Regions from separate parts of the Homo sapiens genome. Here all the other regions are linked to region 1. Evidence: fine-mapped expression QTL. A gene starts in region 1. Each other region holds a variant in brackets. All regions are shown on one strand. Distances are between the middles of the regions.

Region 1 (5,158 bases):
ATTATGAATAGAAGCCTCTTTTATTCTCAAAAAAAGTCTTGTTTAGATGATGAGCTATTTGATGACTCTACTTCTGAGGATTCTTCTTGTTTTATTTTATGATGTAAGTGACTAATTTGGTCCCAAAGACTCTTTATTCCATTGCTAATGCCACATAGGGGAAACTGAGACTATAGATAGTTTTCTTAACAGTCATTTTTTGGCATCATCTATATATTTTCTATAGGATAAAGATAAAGGTAAAAGGACATAAAGAGTAGTTAAAAGAAATAAGTAAGGACATTGACAACTGGCAGATAAGCCAAAGCACATTTTGAGGAATCTAAACAACCCATTATTCTGGCATTTACTTCTAAATTGCTCCAACTTAATCTGAAGGATGAGATGTAAAACCAAAGACAGATCTTGGCATTCATAACATATATTCTCTTGTCAACACTTTAGAGGTGCATATTTTGTGTACTAATGAAATGATTGTAATGTCTCACATTGTCTCAGTTCTATAGTAGAGTTAGGACAGGCACTATGCAATCTTAAGTAGAATTTCAGCTATGTGAGAGTAGCCATGAATTTGCAATAAAAGGTGTAGGCACCACATTTACTTTTCCTATAATCCTACTATTAGATAACACATATAAGAGCTGCTATTTATTTTGTCATTTGTTTCCATCCTAGAAGAAAGCAAAAGAGAATTTTGAAGGTACAATGTATCACATTTAGAGCAACCTTTAGGTCTGTAGCTCATCAGACTGGCTTTTAAAATATGCAAGCATTCCAGGTTAAAAGTCTCTAAATAACTTCATGTCATTTTACTGTTAAATAATGTTTAGAGTTTGCTATCTTTTGTAGACCTTGGAAATCTAATTATTTATAATGTCCAGTGACATTTACATTTTGCTAAATATACTCTGCTTGTACAAGAACATCTCATGATTAGAAAAATGGGTAGAGAATGCCTGGCTGTACATATGCTTCTATATAATGCAAAAATATCAGGGTGACACATGTTATCTTTTTGTTATAGTTTCGTGATTTTAAAACATAATTCTCAAAAAGTTTTTAACTATTAGCATTTAAAATACAGAATAAGAAAAAGTTATCATAGTTGAGATCAGTGTTTACCATTTAACTCTCCACTATCAAATCAAATATCTATTCAAGTTTATTGGTATCTTAACATAATACCATTCATTTCCATGCCAACAGCTCCTGAGTGTTTGGCTTAGTTTTTGAGATTGATTGAAGGTAGATTGTAAAGTTGACCTATTGTGTTAAGCTTATTTACACAAACACAGTGCCTTGGAAAATCAACTCTGGAAGTCCATAGCAGTTGAATCCTAAGGTATTGCACATCCTAAGTTTTCTAATACCTGCTTTATAGAAATCCCTTGGGTGGTGAATCTCAACTTTGCCAGTTACCTTACCTGGGGGAAATTACTTCAACATTCCTAAATTTGAAGTAAAATTTAGGAATTGCTTTAGGACAAAGGATTTGCCTTTAATTTCATTTGACCAATTTGCTTAAGTAAATAATTTATCATTTCTATCAAATTTATGAGACAGTCACAGATGAACTTTTTTTTTTCAGGCTCTTGAAACACACTTTTCTTAAAAGAGTTTAAAAATAACATCCCTAAGATATAAGCAATAGAAAAAGACTTAATTTTGAAAAAAACCTTATGGCAACAGTGAAAAACAGAATTTGGATTCTGGATGGTTACAAATAGATTATTTTCAAAAGAAGTTGGATTTATTCAACTTAGGTCAATTTATCTTGGTAAGAATTTAAAAGCGCTTTCTGATGCCACATCCTTGTCTGTCACCTATTCTTAAATAATCAGTCTATGTCATCACCCCTCCCGAACTCCCCATTTCCCCCATCAAAATGTGGACTTCTCTCCTGCTGCTGAGTAACGTGGGGCTGGTTATGACTGGGAGGGAGGATGGGAGCGAGGCACGTGGACCAGAAATACTTCCTAGAAACAGCAAGTACGCTGCTCAACCCTGCCTGAACTTTCCTGTAAACAGCCACTGACAGACTGCATCCCTGCTGGGTGGATCCTGCGACTCCTAGAGGGAATGGCACTTCTTGTTTTTAATTAGCAAGGTGAAAGGTGAATTAAAACTAGCAGTTTGGCAAGTCAGTGCAAGAGGCTGACTTCTGAGAGGCTTCCAGGAGCCCGAAGAGAGGACCTCCACGGGAGAAGGGAGTGCGTGTGCTCGGTTTTGTTTTTTTCTCTCTTTTTTTTTTTTTTTTCTGAATGAACAGCTTTGCCCAAGTGACTGAAAAATACAGCTTCTTCCTGAATCTACCGGCGTAGTTGCTGAAGAGCGCTCTAGACAGGACATGGCTCTGAAGACTCACTCTTTGGAATGTCCTCTTGCTCCCGGCTTATAAACAACTGTCCCGAGGAAAGAAAGGTTTTACATAGCCAAATACAGCCTGACAAATGGCACTTCGGAACTGTGCTTTCTGATGACAACGCGTTCGATTTCTGACAAAGCCTCTCGCACGCTGCCCCTGGAGGGAAGTCCTAAGTAAAACTCAGACCCTCCTTAAAGTGAGGAGCGAGGGCTTGGACGGTGAACACGGCAGCATGGCATCCGCGGGGCACATTATCACCTTGCTCCTGTGGGGTTACTTACTGGAGCTTTGGACAGGAGGTCATACAGCTGATACTACCCACCCCCGGTTACGCCTGTCACATAAAGGTAGGTTACCTTTCCAGATCCTTTTGTTTAAAAAAAAAAAAAAAGAAAAAGAAAAAAGAAAAAAAAAGTCGTTTAACATTAACATAGGCTTATGGTCTTCAAAGACCTTTAAAATGCACCTGAAAAATTTATTGCAAAACTGACCTAAAATTCTAAGTACCTCTGATTAATGTGTCATACTCACCTCATCTGAAAACAGTGCAAAATCACATGTCAACTTAGAGATGTTATTTTTGTCTGTAAACATTGGATTTTATCAATAAGGAGTTCACTCACTAGCCCGCGGAACACAGGAAGGGAGGAAGCAGGTTGAAAATAGCCTTGAGAGGCTGAATCCACCAAGTTAACAGTAGATATTTAAATATCAGTTTATGCATATGAGAAACAAGGATGCTGGGAAAGGGCTATAGAAATAGGGGTGCAATTTGTTCTTTTTGTTTTTGTTTTGTTTTGTTTCCATAATGGAGGTAAGAGGAGAAAATAAAAATCCCGAGGAGAAAAATGATGCCCTACCCATAACTGTCATCATCATGTAATTAAAATGATTAACAACTAATATAAATTAGTTTTCCAGTTGAATTGATTATTAGAATTTTTTCATGTGTGGCAAAGGAAAATAGTTTATGACAATGCTTGTAAAATGGCTAATATGGATTAAAGTATTAGTATTCACTAGCATTTGTAGTGTAAATTTATATTGCCTTAATGAAGATCTAACAGCAAATGTTTAAATATTTCATTCTACAATTGTCTTGTAAAGCAACATCATACTCATAAATAAATGATTAAAAGATAGATTTTGCATCAGGACCAATACAAGCCAGTCATGAATAGGTTTGGTAATTCCTCCTGTAAACAAACAAATAATAAACAAAACCATGCTCAGAGAAAGTGACTTTGCTGACTTAATATAAATTCGGAATAAATTGTCAGCAAAGAAGTATTTATTATCACTAGCCATTGACACATTGAGACAGATAGCAGATGTAATACTCAGGATTACATAAGAATCATTTTTCAATTGTGTAAGCTTTTAAATTGTCCCCCACTGTAGAAAGAACAGAAGCTTGTATTTTCTAAGTACAGGTAGAATATTTATCAGGAGAAACAAAAAGGGAGTCCTCAATTTTATGTGACACGTTTGGCCTTTTTGTCTTTTTATTGGACAATCTTCAGTAAATGTTGACTATAGAAATTTTTTCATTTTTAGAATAGTGGATGTTTTCTTAGTTTAAATAGATTTCCTATAATACTATCCAGTAGATAATATAAATTTAAGAAATCCATTGATACTAAATTGGTAAAGTGTTTAAAATATAGTGCCCAGAATTAACACTAATCTTTTAACTTGGGAAGATGTATCATGGTATGTATCAAAATGCCTATTTCTAAGAAGTTTATCATCAAAGATGTCAACATGTACAAATTTGATGTGATGGAATATGGACAAATAAAAATGCAAAAAAATATAATTGATTGTTTTTCTTATGTAGACAAGTAGATAAGCTGCCAGTTTTTGCAAGCTACAATTCTGTTATATCTAGTATTAACATTTTATACCCTATTATTGGGGTACTTGTGTTTTCATGGTTCAATATCAGTGTGTTTTCCAACAGGTCACATTTTAATATTTCATAAGAGAGTTAATAATTTGATCAAAAAATACCAAAGTTCTCTGATACAAGTAAATGTTATGCATAATACTATTATCGAGTTCATCTTTATTATGTCACTTATATTCAAAGAAATAATTGTAACTGATGTTATGAGTGGTGTCATATGGTGTGAGAGTAAAACCGCTAGTATCTATATGTACAATAGACTGAAAACTCCCACAGGATTTCCCTTAACTTTGAATTTAATGGAACCAGCTGAAAATGCACAATATGATGTTTTTATACAAAGGCAGAATAGAGAGAGTTACCTGAAAATAGAATGTTCCTACTTGTGCAATTTAGTTAGTAAAGTCAGTTAAGAGATCACACTGGAGATGCTACCTGAAGCAGCAAATGCCTACTGCACCTCAGGGGCCTCAGTGAAAAGAAGAGCATATATACTGTCAGAGGAGGGATATTCAGTCCCACCAATACAATATGAACAGCCCATTTATCTCTCTAGACTCTGGAATTCAGTGAATATTTTAGAAGTCTTCAAAAACTAGGAATAAGATATTACAGATTAATCTTTTGCTGACTTGACTAATGTCAGTAACGACAAGTGTTCAGTAGCGAGTGAATTAAGTAATTAATATTTAAATGAGTATATAATCTTTCAATATAAGAGGCACTAGGTATATGTCATATAGCATCTCTGTACCGCTGCCTGACCACTAGCAAGGAAATCCAGGAGGCTCCCTGGAGATAGCCTACTAGAATAATTCAGAAATTCTTTTCACAGTTAATGATCTAAGCTGTATGGGAGAAAGGCAGGCATTTTTCTCATATTC
Region 2 (5,158 bases), 110 kb after region 1:
AGGAAGAGAGAGGGGAAGAGAAGAAAGAGAGAGAGTGAGAGAGAGAGAGAAGGGGGGAGAAGAGAGAGAGAGACAGAGAAAGATTTTTTTCATAAGGTTGCCAATCCTATTGGATTAAAGTCCCACCTTAATGACCTTAATTACTTTCTAAAAGCCCTTTCTCCAAATATAGTGATATTTGGGGTTAGGGTGTCAACATACAAAATTTGTGGGGACACAATTCAGTCCATACCAATACATAACTTTGAATAAAATGGAAACTAAATACTGGATATTTCTACAGAAAATCTGTGATAAAATTGGCCACAAAAATTATTTCTTCGCCAAGATGCCAATGAGGTCACTGTCACTGAGGATATTATTAACAATATTAAGAATGCTGTTTTATGTTGTTGTCTGGTTTTGTTTTTTTAATATTTATATTCATTTAGCTAATCTTCCCAAAGTTTTATTGTACCTTTTGTGATGTGTTTTTTAACAACTATCTCAATATATCTGATTTTTAAAAAGTCCAACCAGCCTGTTTGTAGGCTTGATTCTTTTATTGTTTTACTTGTTTTGCTTTAGGTAGACTTGAACACAAATCTTTGTCATATTTTTCAAGAGAATGATGAGAAAAGGTGCCATTTAGGAGAAATATTAACCTAATTTTTCCTCAGGTACATTTATATTAGACCTAAAATGTATAGGTAATTGTACTATTTTAAAAAATTGTTATTATTCAAAGCCTTAACATTTGACATGAGAAACATATTATTTTCATTGGTCTAAGACATTCTCCTGGCCAACTAAATTCATTCCATGCAGAGGTATTTCTCTGCATGTTCAACCCTTTAAACGGAGATTCAGTTTAAAGATGTTATTTGGTCAATTCATTAAAAAAAATCAAAAGCTGGTAAAAGTGATCAAAGCTTTATTTATATTTTTAGCAAATAATTAATCTTAGTTTTACTGTGTACATCATCAACATATAAAAGAAACAACAGAATAGGTACTTTTGAAAGAATTACCCCATTTATCAAGTAGACATTTTGGCTGCTTCACAAAAACAGCAGATTCCATCATTGGTGTATATAGAGGCAAATTCAAATCAAATCATTTGTGCCACTTGGGGAAGTTTGATTAACGAGATCCTGCTTGGTTTTATTAATCTTTCCACATTCTTCACTTCTCACTCTTGACACCTAACCATTCTTTTTGGAAATCACCTTTATTTTCTTCACATTTAGTGCAGCTTTAATAATAATTTAGGTTTGAAATTTTTCCCACTGCATTTTTTTATAAACTATTTACAAGATCTTTATTTCTAAGCATGTGGTGAAGATCTTTCTAATTTTCTAACCTCTTGTTAACAAAATCCACCTGGTAAAGAAAATAAAATATTAAAGTAATTGAGATCTTTTACCTCAAGCATTTTCTTTTGGCCATACTTCTTAGATTATAAAAAGGTATAAACATGCAGCTTTGGATTGTAATATCAGAACAATAATGACTTTAGTAATGATTCTCAGGGTCATTGATAGGTTCTTTAATGCTGTCTTTGAGGCAAGTGTGAATAGACTCTAAATTACCATTAAGAATTCTGTGACTGCTGTGATTACCTAAGCAAAACATATTTGATAGATTGTATAAATGTTTGCCCTGTCTCCTTAGTGAATGAATGAAATATTACCTGCTTGAAAAAAAAGTAACTTTTTAAAACTGGTCTCTTGGTCATGTTTAATTGCATGGGTTTGTTGCTTACTTTATGTACTGACAAAAGCACAGCAAATGATTCAGGCAGGAAGCATGGTTGATGCCCAATACCACCCCTCCTTAGAAAGCAAGGAAAAGCCAAATTTATGTGGAGTCAAATGGTCCAGTGAACCTAGTCCCAAGCTATGAAACTCTTTGATGAGACTCAGTAAGAGTCTTTATCTAAAAATAGATAGGAAGTTAAAAATTCCAGCAGATTCACACTCAAAATTAGGCAAAGGCTGATTTCACATTTAGCATATTTACAGAGAACACCAACCATTGGAGCCTGGAAATGCACAAGAAACAAAACAATTTTATTCCTGCCTAAGAGTGCCATTTTCAGGGTTTCAGAACACAGTGGGAGACCGTTGATTAGAAGGGAGCTTGATTCCTGCAGAGGAATGGCTTATTATTGCCCCGAGGATAAAATCCTATCACTAGATTGGAATACCATTCATGATTTAGATCCTCATTCCTTTTCCAACCTCTTTACTTCACCTCCAATGCAAAAAACTTACATTAAACAAAGAATTGGCAGGCTTTCTGTAAAGACAAATAATAAAGAGCTTATAGGCTTTGTGGACCAGTCACTGTCACAGCTACTCATTTCTGCCATTGTTACAGGAAAGTGGTCATAGATAATACATTAAGGAATGGATGTGGCTGTTTGTGATCAATACAACTTTATTTATAGAAACAAGTGACAGACCTGCTTTGTCCCATGGGCCATAGTTTACTGACTCTTCCTGTAGACCAGCTTATTTACAAACTGTGAATTGTGACCATTTAATGGGGTGTGAAATCAATTTTATAGACCAGCTTCTAAAAACAGATTTTTACTTTTATTTCTATTAATATCATTCTTAAAATTCTAAGATACAATAAGAGACAAAAATATAATATATAATGATTGTAAATGAAAAGATAAAAAGTACTGTTATTTATAAATGGTAAAGCCATAGTCCTTAGAAACCCAAGAGAATTCACCTGAAAAACCTCTAGAGTGGTGCTTCCCAAAGTTATCTACACATGGGAATCAAAGGCGAGAACTTCAAAAAAATCCTAATGCCTGAGCCTTGCTCCCAACAGACGTAATTGGCCCAGCCAGTATTTTTTTAAAAATGAGATAGAATAAATCAGAAAATATCAGTATTTATTTTGTGTTGTAACTCTTGTTTTGGGAAGCATTGTTTTCAGATTTATATTACACATATATGTGTATACTGATTGCTAAGTGAAATCTATTTGTTACCTCTGGGCATGGTCTAAAAAGTTTGAAAACTGCTCCAAATTAAATAGAATTGGCAGAAGCTTAAAAATGGAAACTTCATTTTCTTCCCATATGATATGCTATTTAGAACAATACTTGAATTTTGACTAGAACTTGGGATAAAGAGGAGAGTCCTAGAGGCAA[G/T]AAGCCCTCCCTGAAATGCAATCATGGCTGAGTTCCTCTTTAGGACAATAGCCTAAACCACAGCTGGGAAGGCAGGCAGGGAAGGACCTTCCCAGTCAGCTGTGCCTGGGCCAGCCAGCCAGCCACAATTCCAAATATCTTTCTACTTTTCCTCCTCCTCCTTATTTGCAATCATTCAGATCTCAGGTAAGCACAATAATAAAACGTAAGGAAGTTTCAGATGGAGGCACAGTAGGGACCTGAATCTCCTCACCTCCCTGTCTTGTCTCAGGTGAAGGACTTCTGTGGCATTTAATTCTGATTTCCTCTATTCTACTGCCTCATGATTTTGCTTGTTTCATTTATTTTATTTTATTTTATTTTATTTTATTTTATTTTATTTTATCGTATTTTATTGAGAAACGGTCTCACTCTGTCGCCCAGGCCGTAGTGCAATGGCACAATCTTGGCTAGCTGCAATCTCCGCCTCCCGGGTTCAAGCCATTCTCCTGCCTCAGTCTACCTAGTAGTTGGGATTACAGGCACCTGCCACCATGACTGGCTAATTTTTGTATTTTTTCGGTAGAGATGGGGTTTTGCCATGTTGGCCAGACTGGTCTCGTACTCCTAACCTCAAGTGATCTGCCCACCTTGGCCTCCCAAAGTGTTGGGATTACAGGCATGAGCCACTGCACCTGGCCCCCTGTTTTGCTTGTTTTAATTCCAAGTATGTTTCAAACAGAAATTAAGATGAGAAAAGGGAACTTCCCCTTTTAGGTTGTAACTTCTGGGACTGCACATGATACCCTAAGGAAATTTAGGTAATGTCAGTTGTACAGGTGGAGGAGAAGGAGGAGGAGAGAAAGATACAGAAGAAGGGTTACAGAGTGACTTGTGATGACACAGTGTTTTGGGGATAAAGGAATCCTAGAGATTTGTGGGGTGGAGGGAGGTGAATGAGGAAACCATGTAAACATTAATCATTTTATCTTTTGGACTTAGTCTTCATCTTTATTAAAGATGTAGAACATCTTTAGTGATGAGAGTTCCCGTGGTGAGAATTTCTTACATTACAGATCACATCACGTGTTAATTAATTAACAAACACACACAAATGGTTGAAGCAAGATAAAGCCTCATATTTGTTTTTTGTTGCTGTTTTCTTTCTTTTTTTAAAAAAAAAACAGGAAATAATTTCAGTCAGATTATATCTCAAAACTGGAAAAGACTTCAAGATCATATAAAATTATCTGCCCTTTTTTTTTGGTTGGTTTGTTTCAGTTGCTTATTAAATTGAAGTATTGAGAGAATAAGTCAGAAAGAGTAAGCACAGAGAAGAAACTTGATCCCAGGTTTCAAGATTCCTGATTATGGAGTGTTTTTACCAGGGCAATACATTTGTCTTTACGTTCTTCTTAAGGAAAGGGTTACATCCCGCTGTACTGTACAGTGTAATGCAGTCCAGTCACACATTTATTCATTAATTCTTTCAGAGACTATTGATTAAATTCCTGTGATGTGCCAGTCACTACTAAGTGCTTCTCTCTAAAAGTAGAATGAGTCATCTTGGTGTGTGTCCTCATCACTTCCATACTGTAGTAAGGGAAATAAATATTAAATCACTTTGAGAATATTCAGTTCTGGACAGGAAAGACAGTGGAGTATGGATTTCCTAAAGTCTTATCTGCCAATTATCTCTCCAGAATGTGAGAAGAGCATTTTAACTCCATTTTATGTTCTCAAATCCCAAGAAAATAAGGAATCAAGAAAAATATAACAAGAAAAATAAAGAGGTGTTGAAATGAAGAAACCTTAAAATCTAAAAAGATTCCTAATTTTTTTAATGTTGTCTTAAATTTTTGCATTGAACTATCTCCTTCAAGTTTCCCTAATTTATACATGTTTTACCCAGAAATAACAGTCAGCAATGCATGCTAACTTTAAAAAGTCACGTTTATCACATGTTGTTTTCAGAGCCAAAAGCCAAATGTCCTGTCTCCCGATGATTCCCATATGGAATAGTTGAAT
Region 3 (5,158 bases), 30 kb before region 1:
GGATGTAAATGAATGACAATATAATAATAATTTTCAAAGTTAATAAAATAATACAGATAAACAGTATTGAATGTTTTTAGTATCCAATTTAGGCATAAGAAAATTCTTTCATTTAAAATATGTCCTTCCTTGCCCACCTTAATTAAATCCATTTTGGTTTTGTAGATAATAATAATGTTGAAATAACATTTTTATACATAATAATAAGTTTTCTTGGCCTTTACTCCACCTTCATTATTCATAAAATTAAACATGTATGTTCCTTTCCCCTCCAAAAATATATTCTTTCCATTACAAAAATAATCACTTACATTGTTACAGAAATACATATGGCTGAAAGTCTCTTTATACCTTTATCATTAAAGGTATTATGTAATTTGTTTGCTTTTCTAAAAAAATTTTTTTAAACCAAGATCATAATCATTTAATAAAAAATATATCTGCTGTATTTTAATCAAAAGAATTGCTACTAATGTTGATGAGGTTAACTGTTAAAGTAGAAACAATGACGGGCTCCGTGGCTCATGCCTGTAATCCCAGCACTTTAAGATGGTGAGGCAGGAGGATTGCTTGAGCCCAGGTGTTCAAGAGCAGCTTGGGCAATATAGTGAGACCTCTGTCTCCACAAAAAGGGAAACAGCCAAGCAAGGTGGCATGTGTCTGTAGTCCCAGCTACTCAAGAGGCTGAGGTGGGAGGATTGCTTGAGCCCGGGAGGTTGAGCTATAATCATGCCACCACACTCCAGCCTTCCAGCCTGTGCAACAGAGTGAGATCCTTGTCTCAAAAAGGAAAAAAAAAAAAGGTAGAAATGTTGTCTTTCTTTTCTTCTTCCAAATGAGTATCTCAACTCATTGACACCACATTGTCCTTGTATTATCTCACTTGGGAACTGCCTCCCTTAGGTCATTCCTTTTTTTTTTTTTTTTTTTTTTTGAGACAGGGTCCCAGGCTGGAGTGCAACGGCACAGGCTTGGCTCACTGTAACCTCTGCCTCTCAAGCTCAAGTCATCGTCACACCTCAGCCTCCCAAATAGCTGAGACTACAGGTGTGCACCACTACACCTGGCTCATTTTTGTGTTTTTTATAGAGATGGGGTTTTGCCCCATTGCCTAGGCTGGTCTTCAACTCTTGGGCTCAAGCAATCCAGCAATCCACCTGCCTCGGCCTCCCAAAGTGCTAGGATTACAAACATGAGCCACTGCACCCAGCCCATTTCTTTTTCTTGAGATCTTTTTCTTCCCATATGCTCCAACAAAGCTTACTTGATCAATGCTTAATTTCTCCATGACTTTTCTGCTTTATTAATAGATAATGACAATAGAAAATAAATTGGGGGTATCTTAAACCTCAAAAGTAATGTGTAGGTTTTGAACTAGGGATCTTTGGACACACAACAGAAATGGATTTAGTCGTTTATATTTCAGTGCTCGGGGAGGTCATATTTTGGAAAGGTGAGCTATCTGGTATCTCAAATTAAACATACGGAGATAAGAATCCAACCCCCTTCCTATGAGATTGGTTATATATATACAGTATTTGTATGGTCTGAATTATACATATAAAGTATTTGTATGGTCTGAATATGAACTATTCACATTTGTTTATTTTAAAAATATACTTTAGGAAAATATAATTTTATCATAATCTACTTTGTAAGAATTAAGTGATGTTGGTAAAATGATTTCATAAAAGATTGCCAATCATTAGATTAATATGAAAATTTTAAATTCTGAATGTGTGTTCTATTTTTGAAAATAACACAAATTAATAATTAACCTTTAATCTCTATATTAATACATTTTATTTCATTTTGAAATCTTTTTATAATACGGTAACTCATGGCCCAAAGATGTGCTTTGACTGCTAACATGGGACAATCTATTTTATTCTGGGAATTCTCAAATATATCCCAAATAGGCAAATCCTATCTTATAAAGTATTCAAATATTAAGTGGTGAAGACTTTAATTTTTAGATAATTAGAAAATCATTCAGCCCTTAAATTAATAATTTTTTT[A/T]AAAAAGTTATCTAAAGCTAATATTGAAATAGACTATAGGAGAGTCCCAGAAGCTAGCCTCTCTTAAGAGCTCTGCTAGGACATGTTCTAATAAGTTTTTTGACTTCAGGAATCTAGAGTTGGTGTTGATTAAATTCCTCACCCCTCCAGTACTGACTCCAGCAACCCTGCAGCCTCACACAGACCTACAGCCCTTGATCCTACCACCTCTACACTCCCCTCCCAGTCCACCTTGATCATTCTTCTGCAGCCCAGTGACAGTCTATGGTCAATCTTTATGATCATTTTTCTGGATACTCTCTCTACTCTCTTGTCTCTCTTTCTTCACTATATATGCTTAGCAAAATACCTAAACCTACTACACCTACTGCTTTCTGCATCTCAGCTAATAAATCTCCATTCTTCCAAATGTTCAGGCCTGACCCAGCTATTTACTTTACATACAATTGATTAGCAAATTCTATCAGTTCCACCTATAAAATACGTACATCAATCATTTTCCATCAGTTTCAATACTCTCTTTGGTCCAAGCAAACATTATTTTTTTTCTGAATTGTAACAGTTTCCTAACAGGTATACCAGATTGATCGTTCTTCTCTCCTTATGTTCCCAGTCTGTTTTCAATACAAAAGCCAGAGTATCCCTTTAAAAACATAAATCAGATTATGTCTCAACTCTATTTGAAAGACAATTGCTTTTATTCTCGTCTGACAAGAAGCCTCCACTTCTTTGCCTTATTCTCTCTCAGGTCTCATCTTTTCCTAGCCTCTCCTACTTGTCAATTCACTACAACCCATCTGTCTTCTTGCTCTTCTTGGGTCATTCTAGCAATGCTCCCAGGTGCTTCACAGCCTTTAAACTTGTCCCTTTGGCCTGGAATGCTATTTTCCCTGGAGGCTAGGTTGGTTGAGGATGGAGAAGGGCTTGTTTCTTCACCTCCTACAGTTCTTGGTTTAATTATCACCTTCTCGCAAAGATCATTACTAATCATAGGATTTAAATGTTATCATCTCAATGACCCCACTTGCTTTTCTTGAGTTTTTTCTTTATCACATTTACACAATACAATTTATTCTACTCATTTGTATTATTTACTTTCCTCATGAGATGTAAGTCCATTATGTCATTTGTCAGTTTTATTTATTGTTGAATTCTCTGTAACTAGCACAGTGCTTGAACACAGTTTTTGCTCAACACAAGTTTGTTGAATATATTCAGGAAAAAACATACAACTGGTTTTTAGTCATCATAAATGGTAAGAACTTGGGCTTTGGAGTCAAAGATCTTGTGTTCATTTTTTGGCTCCACCAATTATGAGCTGTGTGAGCATGGAGATAATAACCATGTCCATCTCACAGAGCAGTTGTGATATATTAATGAAGAACAAGCCCAAAGGGTATGTTTTGGAGTTCCTGGCCAGAGTAAACACTGGTCACTGTTTTTATGAAAGTATTTTTGAGTGGGCGGGGAAATGTGCTGTGTATCCTGTATGCTGTATCTCATTAAGTCTGCTTGCCTATAAGTTAAACATGAAGTGCTGTTGCCTCTGGGGACTCCAAGAATATCCGGACTCCTCCAGACTTTTAGACTAAGTGAAGATACGGGGTAGGTTGATGTTTTCTTTAGGGTTGTGTCATGTCAAGTGTCCACTGGACATATCTTAATTTATTCTGCAATTACTCATACTCACCAGTACTTATTGGAAATGTAAATAAAGGATACTATAAATTATGATGAAAAGGATGGAGAACCATAGGATAAATAAAGAGGAGCTAAAAATAATCACTGAAACCTGAGCCAGTCCAGAGACTGTGGTAGGTCCCAGAGGGGATTCCTGGCTCTAGGGATCCCCTAAGGCCTTCAGGGTTTACACTTTCCATTTGGGTGTGGGCCTGTGACTCAGGCTGAATCATCCCCACTGAACTAGTCCAGCTGTTTCCATTTCCAGAGCTACGAGAACTTCCTTAGTCTGCAGGTTGTTTAAAGTAGTCACTTAAAGCACTTTAAAAATTGTCGAAGTGACTTCTGCCTTAGAAAAGCAAAAAATAAATTCTGCTGTTTTTAGAGGTATGAATCAACCTGGGAGCCCAATCCTAAATTACAAAAAGTGGAAAAAACTTACCCTAACTCTTCATTTAGAAACCACCTTTGCACCTGGACACTTGATTTAACAGCACATTCTAACGTGGAAGAAAAAGAAGAGGAAAAAAAAAATTAAACTCATTAAGAATAGTAACTTTGCAAAAAAAAAAAAAAAAGCCTTTGGTCACAATTTAGGAGTTGAAAAAAAAAGAAATTAAAACTCTTCTCACTCTAACTTAGAGTTCTATAGGATTGTTAGGATCTGCAAATATATTTGAATAGAAATCAAATTATTTAGGAAGAATATATTTTATTACTGTTTGTGGAAGATTTTGCAAGGCAATATGTGGTAGAATATTCAAAGTACTAGAGATGAGTTAGATCAGACTCTGGCTCATTTCCCAGGAAATATAATATTGTATAAAGAAAAGCAGTATAATCAGTTTCTTATGCTACCCATTCAGGTGTCTCACGTTTACCGGAAATTTAAAACAGATCTTCAAAGAGAAATCGACTTAACATGTAAAAGAATAAGACCAGATACCAACAGAAGCTAAATGGTGTTCTTGTGTATAAAAATTTTGAATGCATAAAATTTATAATTTTATAGAATTAGTAAAAATAAATAGAAAGGAATGTTGATAGACATAGAGTTAGAATATGTTCATTAAGTAAAAAAAAAACAAAAAGCCCAATTTTACTTCCATATGGAATATAACCAAATAATCCTGTTGCAATTGAAAGGCTAAAGCAGAATAAGAAATGCTAACACTGTGTTAGGTACAGAGATGTCCTCTGTAGATGATGAACCAGTAAGTAGAAGAAAATTTAGCTGTAAACCAAGCTCAGAATTAAGTGGGCAAAGAGAAGCTAACAAAAATGCCTGAAATTAATGAATAGGTAGGTTGGCCCATATTAATATTCAAATATTCAACTTGAACTTACAGTGATTTTTTTTTCTTGTGCTTTTGAAGTTATTTTTCAAAGATACATAATTTTTAAGTCACAGACATAAATTGTTGCCAGAAAGGTTCAGGTAACAGATCATGAAAACGTAA
Region 4 (5,158 bases), 92 kb after region 1:
TATTGAGCATCTTTTCGTTTGCTCATTTGTCATCTGAATACCTTCTTCTGTGAGATGTCTGACACTACTATTTTTTCTCCTGTTTTAAAAGTGTTATTTCCTGACAGTAATAATACTTAGAATATTAAAACAAATATGGATATAACAAAACATTTAAGATGACTTCCATTCCATGACTTTTTATGGTTGCACAATGCTGGAGCCTTGTATATATCACCTTTCAATCTTGTCAAATACCATTTGTTAAAGCTATCCTTCTATGGGAGAAGAAACCAAGGCTCAAGCAGGTAGCTTTGTTGAACTCCTGCAGTTAGCAACTGTCCTAGCAAAGATTTGGACTTGTTCTCAGCTCCAAGTCCAATACTGTTCCTGCTACATCAAAATTGATCCAGTCAAAGATGAGCACCAATTATTGGTGCTTTATTTATAATTAACACAACACCAAAATGGTTTTTAATCTTCAGCCAACAATGTAGCTGGTTAAAATTATACTCTATTTGAAATGTATGGACTGAAAAAGGTCAAAAAACATCATTTTCAATTGATGAGTTAGCTAGAGTTAGCCATTTAGGGAAAGCAAAAAGGGGAGCCAAATTTAAATCTTATATTTGATTTATATTGTATTTCTTTTTTCACTAAAATATTTGTATTTGTTAAAAATTTGATTTTTGTAGTGACATGACACACTATTAGTTATTCCTAATAACACTTAAGGTAGGAGTTTTAATCTTTCAATATTAGGTTGTTAAAGTAGTTTTATTATCTCATTTTATTGTGGTTTGTCATTGTAGCATTGCTTCTTAGCCATATTTTTATTAAAATATACTAAAATAGTTGGTTCATATCTGAAATGTAACCATAATTTTAAAAATGCATCTGGAATACATCTTTACTGATATTAATAGGTCTATTATTTTCTTCTTCCTTCATAATTTGACAACTGTACTTTTTGAAAAATGGATGTTTATTTCTGTTTTCCTCCTGAAATGACACAGTTTAAATTTTAAAGAGAAATTACTAAATAAATGCTCTTTAAGCACCCCTGTATTTGTCTTTTGAAACCAAATACCAGTAGCACAGTAGACCACAAAATTATTCAGTAAAACCTTGGTGCCAGTTCCTGTAAATTCAAACAATATGAAAAATGTGCATTTTGAAAAATCAAGGCTGGTATGTTTTTCACATACATAATTATTTGAATCATTGCTCACAGCAATGTGGCAGAACATGGCATCTTTGGTGATTTCTTCCAATCTTTGTCTTTAAAAAATATATATACATCTCTAGTTATCTCAAGGCTTTGCCCCACCATTTACTGAAATTGTTTACTACATTGTATCTCCTCTCCCAGATTGTTAAATTACAAATATTATGAAAGCTATTATTAGGAATATATGTTACACAACAAATCAATGGATAACTTAATTGGAAAAGGTCCTCAAATGTTTCCTATAACCTGGGTACACAGAAGGAACATTTATCCTTCTGGATCATGTTCAAATAGAAAAGCCATTGTACTGGGTTTTACAGCCTTTCTTGGGCATATGTGCAAATGAGAAGCTAAATATTTTGGAAGCCTATTGTGTACATTTTGGACAAAGTGCTAATGTCCTATACCTAGGAATAAAACTGAAGTTTGCTTCCTACCTTCTTCCAAGTATAATTCTTAGAGCAATTCTTAGAGGGATGCACATTGAGCTAGCTTGCTGTTAGGCTGAAGTCGAGACATAAGCTGCTGATAATAGTAATCTCATTCTTCTAAAGAATCGGTAGGAAGGAGGAATATATTTTCTTTGTGTAATTGTTAGCATCTTTACTGACATAATATAGAGTTAAATTCATTGTTTTAATTTATAAAAACCTGTGAAATGATTTTTTGAATACCTTGTCAAATATTAACTAATGCTTTGTTTCAAATAACTAATATTAGTTTAAAATATTAATGAAAAGATCTTTGGCAACTGGTTTTCCTTTAATATTTTTACATTGGAAATAATGAACACTGAAACGTTTATAAATTAATTTTAGTTGTTTTACCATAATAAGAGCATTGATTAAAATAAAATCCTATTTTGATGTGCTTTGTTAATTAGTTTGAATTATTGATCAATATTTATGTTGATACTTATTTTTAATAAGCATAATAGTAATAATTTTTATTTTATATATTTTTATAGATTCATATAAATTCCTTTTATCTGTACAGTAAAAATTAGTAAGGTTCATTTTAATGCCAAAGCATTTAATTGAAGAAATATTATAAACATACTTGTTACATAAATTTAGTAATAAAAAGAATATTCATTTTCAAATAAAATACTTTGACATAAGACTTTTGATCTTCAATATATTATATTCCTTACATTTATTCAGTAATTTATAAACTCTGTAAATGTCTTAATTGGTTTATGCTGCTATAACAAAATACCTGAGACTGGGTAATTTATAAAGAACATGAATTTGTTTCTTAGTTCTGGAGGCTGGAAGTCAAAGATCAAACTCTGGCAGGTTTGGTGTCTGGTAAGATCCTAGTCTTTGCTTCTGAGAT[G/A]GTGCCTTGAACACTGTGTCCTCACAAGTCCAAGGTGAGGATGGAAAGGTAAAAGGGCCAGAAAGGGCCTGACTTGTCTCCTCCAGCCCTTTTGTAAGGCTCGAATCCTTTCATGAGGGCAGAACCCTCATGACCTAATGACCTCCCAATGACCAGACCTCTTAATACTGTTTCACTGGGGATTAAGTTTCAACGTAAGTTTTGGAGAGGACACAAACATTCAAGCTGTAGCAGTAAACTAATTCCTAAGTCAGATTATAAATTTGCATCTTATAATAATTTACTTGAGATCCCCAGATGGCAATCTACACCATTATGGCATGCCTGCTACTTGTACCTACAAATGCTTCCACTGTTTATACTATATTAAACAAGATATAGTCATTAAAATTGACAACTTGTTCCCTGGCCCCTCAATGTCTAGGTCTTTTTCTAAACACAATTTTCTCACGAAATGTAACATACATGATAGCATGAATCATTGTCTGTTTTGTTCACTAATGTATTATGACTCTTAAAACGACCTGGCATTTAATAAGGGGCTCCATATATAGCTATTGAATGAATGACTAATACTAGCAGTAGGCATTTAGTGTTGATAATACAGGTTATTTGCATGGACATATGTAATATCTATGCAAAGTCGTTGGCAACCTGGAAAGCATATTTTCCAAAGATATATGCTAAAGTATTATCAATAGTTATCTCAAAAAGCGAAGGTAAGTGCAGGCAGTGGAGGGAGAATGTCCTTTTTAAAAAACAATTTCATGTTACCTACATGAAAATCAGTAAGTTTCTGAACATATAAAAACGTATAACATGTTCATAAACATATAATGTAAACATATAAATGTTTATGAACATTTCCTGTTATACTGGAAAGAGAACAGAGAAAATGCAGTTAGTGCTTTCTCATTTATTAGAATTTGGATTAAGGGCAATTATATGGAGCAAAAACAGAAGTTAAAAAGTATACAGTTTGAAAAAGAGGTTGTCAGAGAAAATGCTGGAGGTATGACATAGACCCTCTCTGTGTGGAAATTCCTTAGTAAGGTCTCCACATTCTTAGTTCTTAAATGTCCATGGATGAGAGGATAATAATGAGCTGACCCATGCTACCGAGCATGAATTTGAATCAAGGAACAGCAAATAGAATTTGCTAAAGTATAAAATAAATTAGTATGTTCAGAGAAAAAAATTAGAAGGCATCATGAAGATGCCAGACAGATCCAATTGTTAGAAAGAATTAAGCTGGAGCATTTCTAGGTACCTTTTTTCTCCAAATATTAGGAGTCTATTGATTTGCTGATTTGTAACAAGAGATGGGCAAATCGCAATCACACTTTACCTCAACTTCTTTAAGCCTCATTGTAGACATGGAAAATACGTTTGCCTCTAGTGGGAGAAAGTCGTAGATGAATAGCATAGAGAGTAGGAATAATCCAGGATGTGACAATTTTATCTAATAAAACACATGCTTTTATCTTTATGGTGAGACAATTAAATGCTGTGACTTCTACCATGTGCTTTATTTTTTAAGCCTATTTAAATGGGAGAGAGAAAAAAGAAAAAAGTAACACATCAATTCACTTCAACATTTAAAAAATAGATTTAGCGGCACAAGTGCAGTTGTGTTACATGCATATATTATGTACTGGTGACGTCTGGGACACTTCAACTTTTTGATGCAGAAAGCAAGCTAGCATTAGATGGATTTACTTCTATATCTCAGGTCAGGGCGAATTTTTATTTTTTATTTTTGGGTAAAATGCATTTTTGGTCTACAATAAATAATAGTAAGAAAAGCAGTACTTAATGAAATTCAAGACTGCACCTATTCTCTATAATGAATAATTCCTGCACTTATAGTTAAATTGTTTCTATTAAATGGAATTGTTTCTATGAAAAGCACAAGTCTTTTTTTTTTCCATTTTTATTTATTTATTTATTTATTTTGAGACGGAGTCTCGCTCTGTCACCCAGGCTGGAGTACAGTGGTCTGATCTTGGCTCACTGCAAGCTCCGCCTCCCGGGTTCACGCCATTCTCCTGCCTCTACCTCCCTAGTAGCTGGGACTACAGGCGCCCGCCACCACGCCAGGCTAATTTTTTCCTATTTTTAGTAGAGACGGGGTTTCACCGTGTTAGCCAAGATGGTCTCCATCTCCTGACCTCGTGATCTGCCCACCTCGGCCTCCCAAAGTGCTGGGATTACAGTAGTGAGCCACCGCACCCAGAGAGAAGCACATGTCTTTAAAGTGTTAGTAATCTTGTTATAAAGTAAATGTTCTGTAATTGAAAAGAAAAATTCAAAGGAGACTTTTTCTTCTTTTGATATTACATTACTACATTTGGAAACTGTTGACATACTCTTTTGTACACTGGGTTAAAAAAAACTGCCCCTATCATCTTTTCCTCTCCAATTTTGTTGAATGTGTCTACATCTCTAGAACGGTCAGAAAGATTGTCTTAGCTCTATGTAGAAATCGAAAGCAGTATTGCGTGCACGTATCTTTACCCAAAGGCCTGGAGGAATACGAGTGCTACCTCATTTCAAGTCATTTGGTTTCAACTTTTCTATGAGGACTCATTTTTCCATTGCTTACTATTT

Direction of the effects. Positions count from the first base shown, and alleles are read on the strand shown. Sizes are in standard deviations (SD) of each study's normalised expression. Not every link is listed here.
For the expression in lung of the gene that starts at base 2,001 in region 1, allele G in region 2 goes with a lower level than allele T (moderate effect, 0.55 SD a copy in GTEx).

The links. PIP is the estimated chance that this variant, and not a neighbour inherited with it, causes the effect.
Region 2: its variant is the best candidate, but not a certain one, in a credible set for the expression of SEMA3E in lung (GTEx, PIP 0.81).
Region 3: its variant is the best candidate, but not a certain one, in a credible set for the expression of SEMA3E in sigmoid colon (GTEx, PIP 0.88).
Region 4: its variant is the best candidate, but not a certain one, in a credible set for the expression of SEMA3E in lung (TOPMed, PIP 0.60).

The regions. Positions count from the first base shown.
Region 1 is chr7:83,645,982-83,651,139 of GRCh38, reverse strand. It overlaps SEMA3E (semaphorin 3E), which reads left to right and starts at 2,001. Exons shown (of 17, transcript NM_012431.3): 1 at 2,001-2,712. The coding sequence starts at 2,598.
Region 2 is chr7:83,531,933-83,537,090 of GRCh38, reverse strand. The region is part of intron 1 of SEMA3E (semaphorin 3E); the gene reads left to right. Among named protein-coding and RNA genes, the nearest start is that of SEMA3E, 110 kb to the left of the region's middle. The variant G/T (reference allele first, on the strand shown) is at 3,152.
Region 3 is chr7:83,676,026-83,681,183 of GRCh38, reverse strand. No RefSeq gene overlaps it. Among named protein-coding and RNA genes, the nearest start is that of SEMA3E, 29 kb to the right of the region's middle. The variant A/T (reference allele first, on the strand shown) is at 2,019.
Region 4 is chr7:83,554,323-83,559,480 of GRCh38, reverse strand. All of the region lies in intron 1 of SEMA3E (semaphorin 3E), which reads left to right. Among named protein-coding and RNA genes, the nearest start is that of SEMA3E, 92 kb to the left of the region's middle. The variant G/A (reference allele first, on the strand shown) is at 2,549.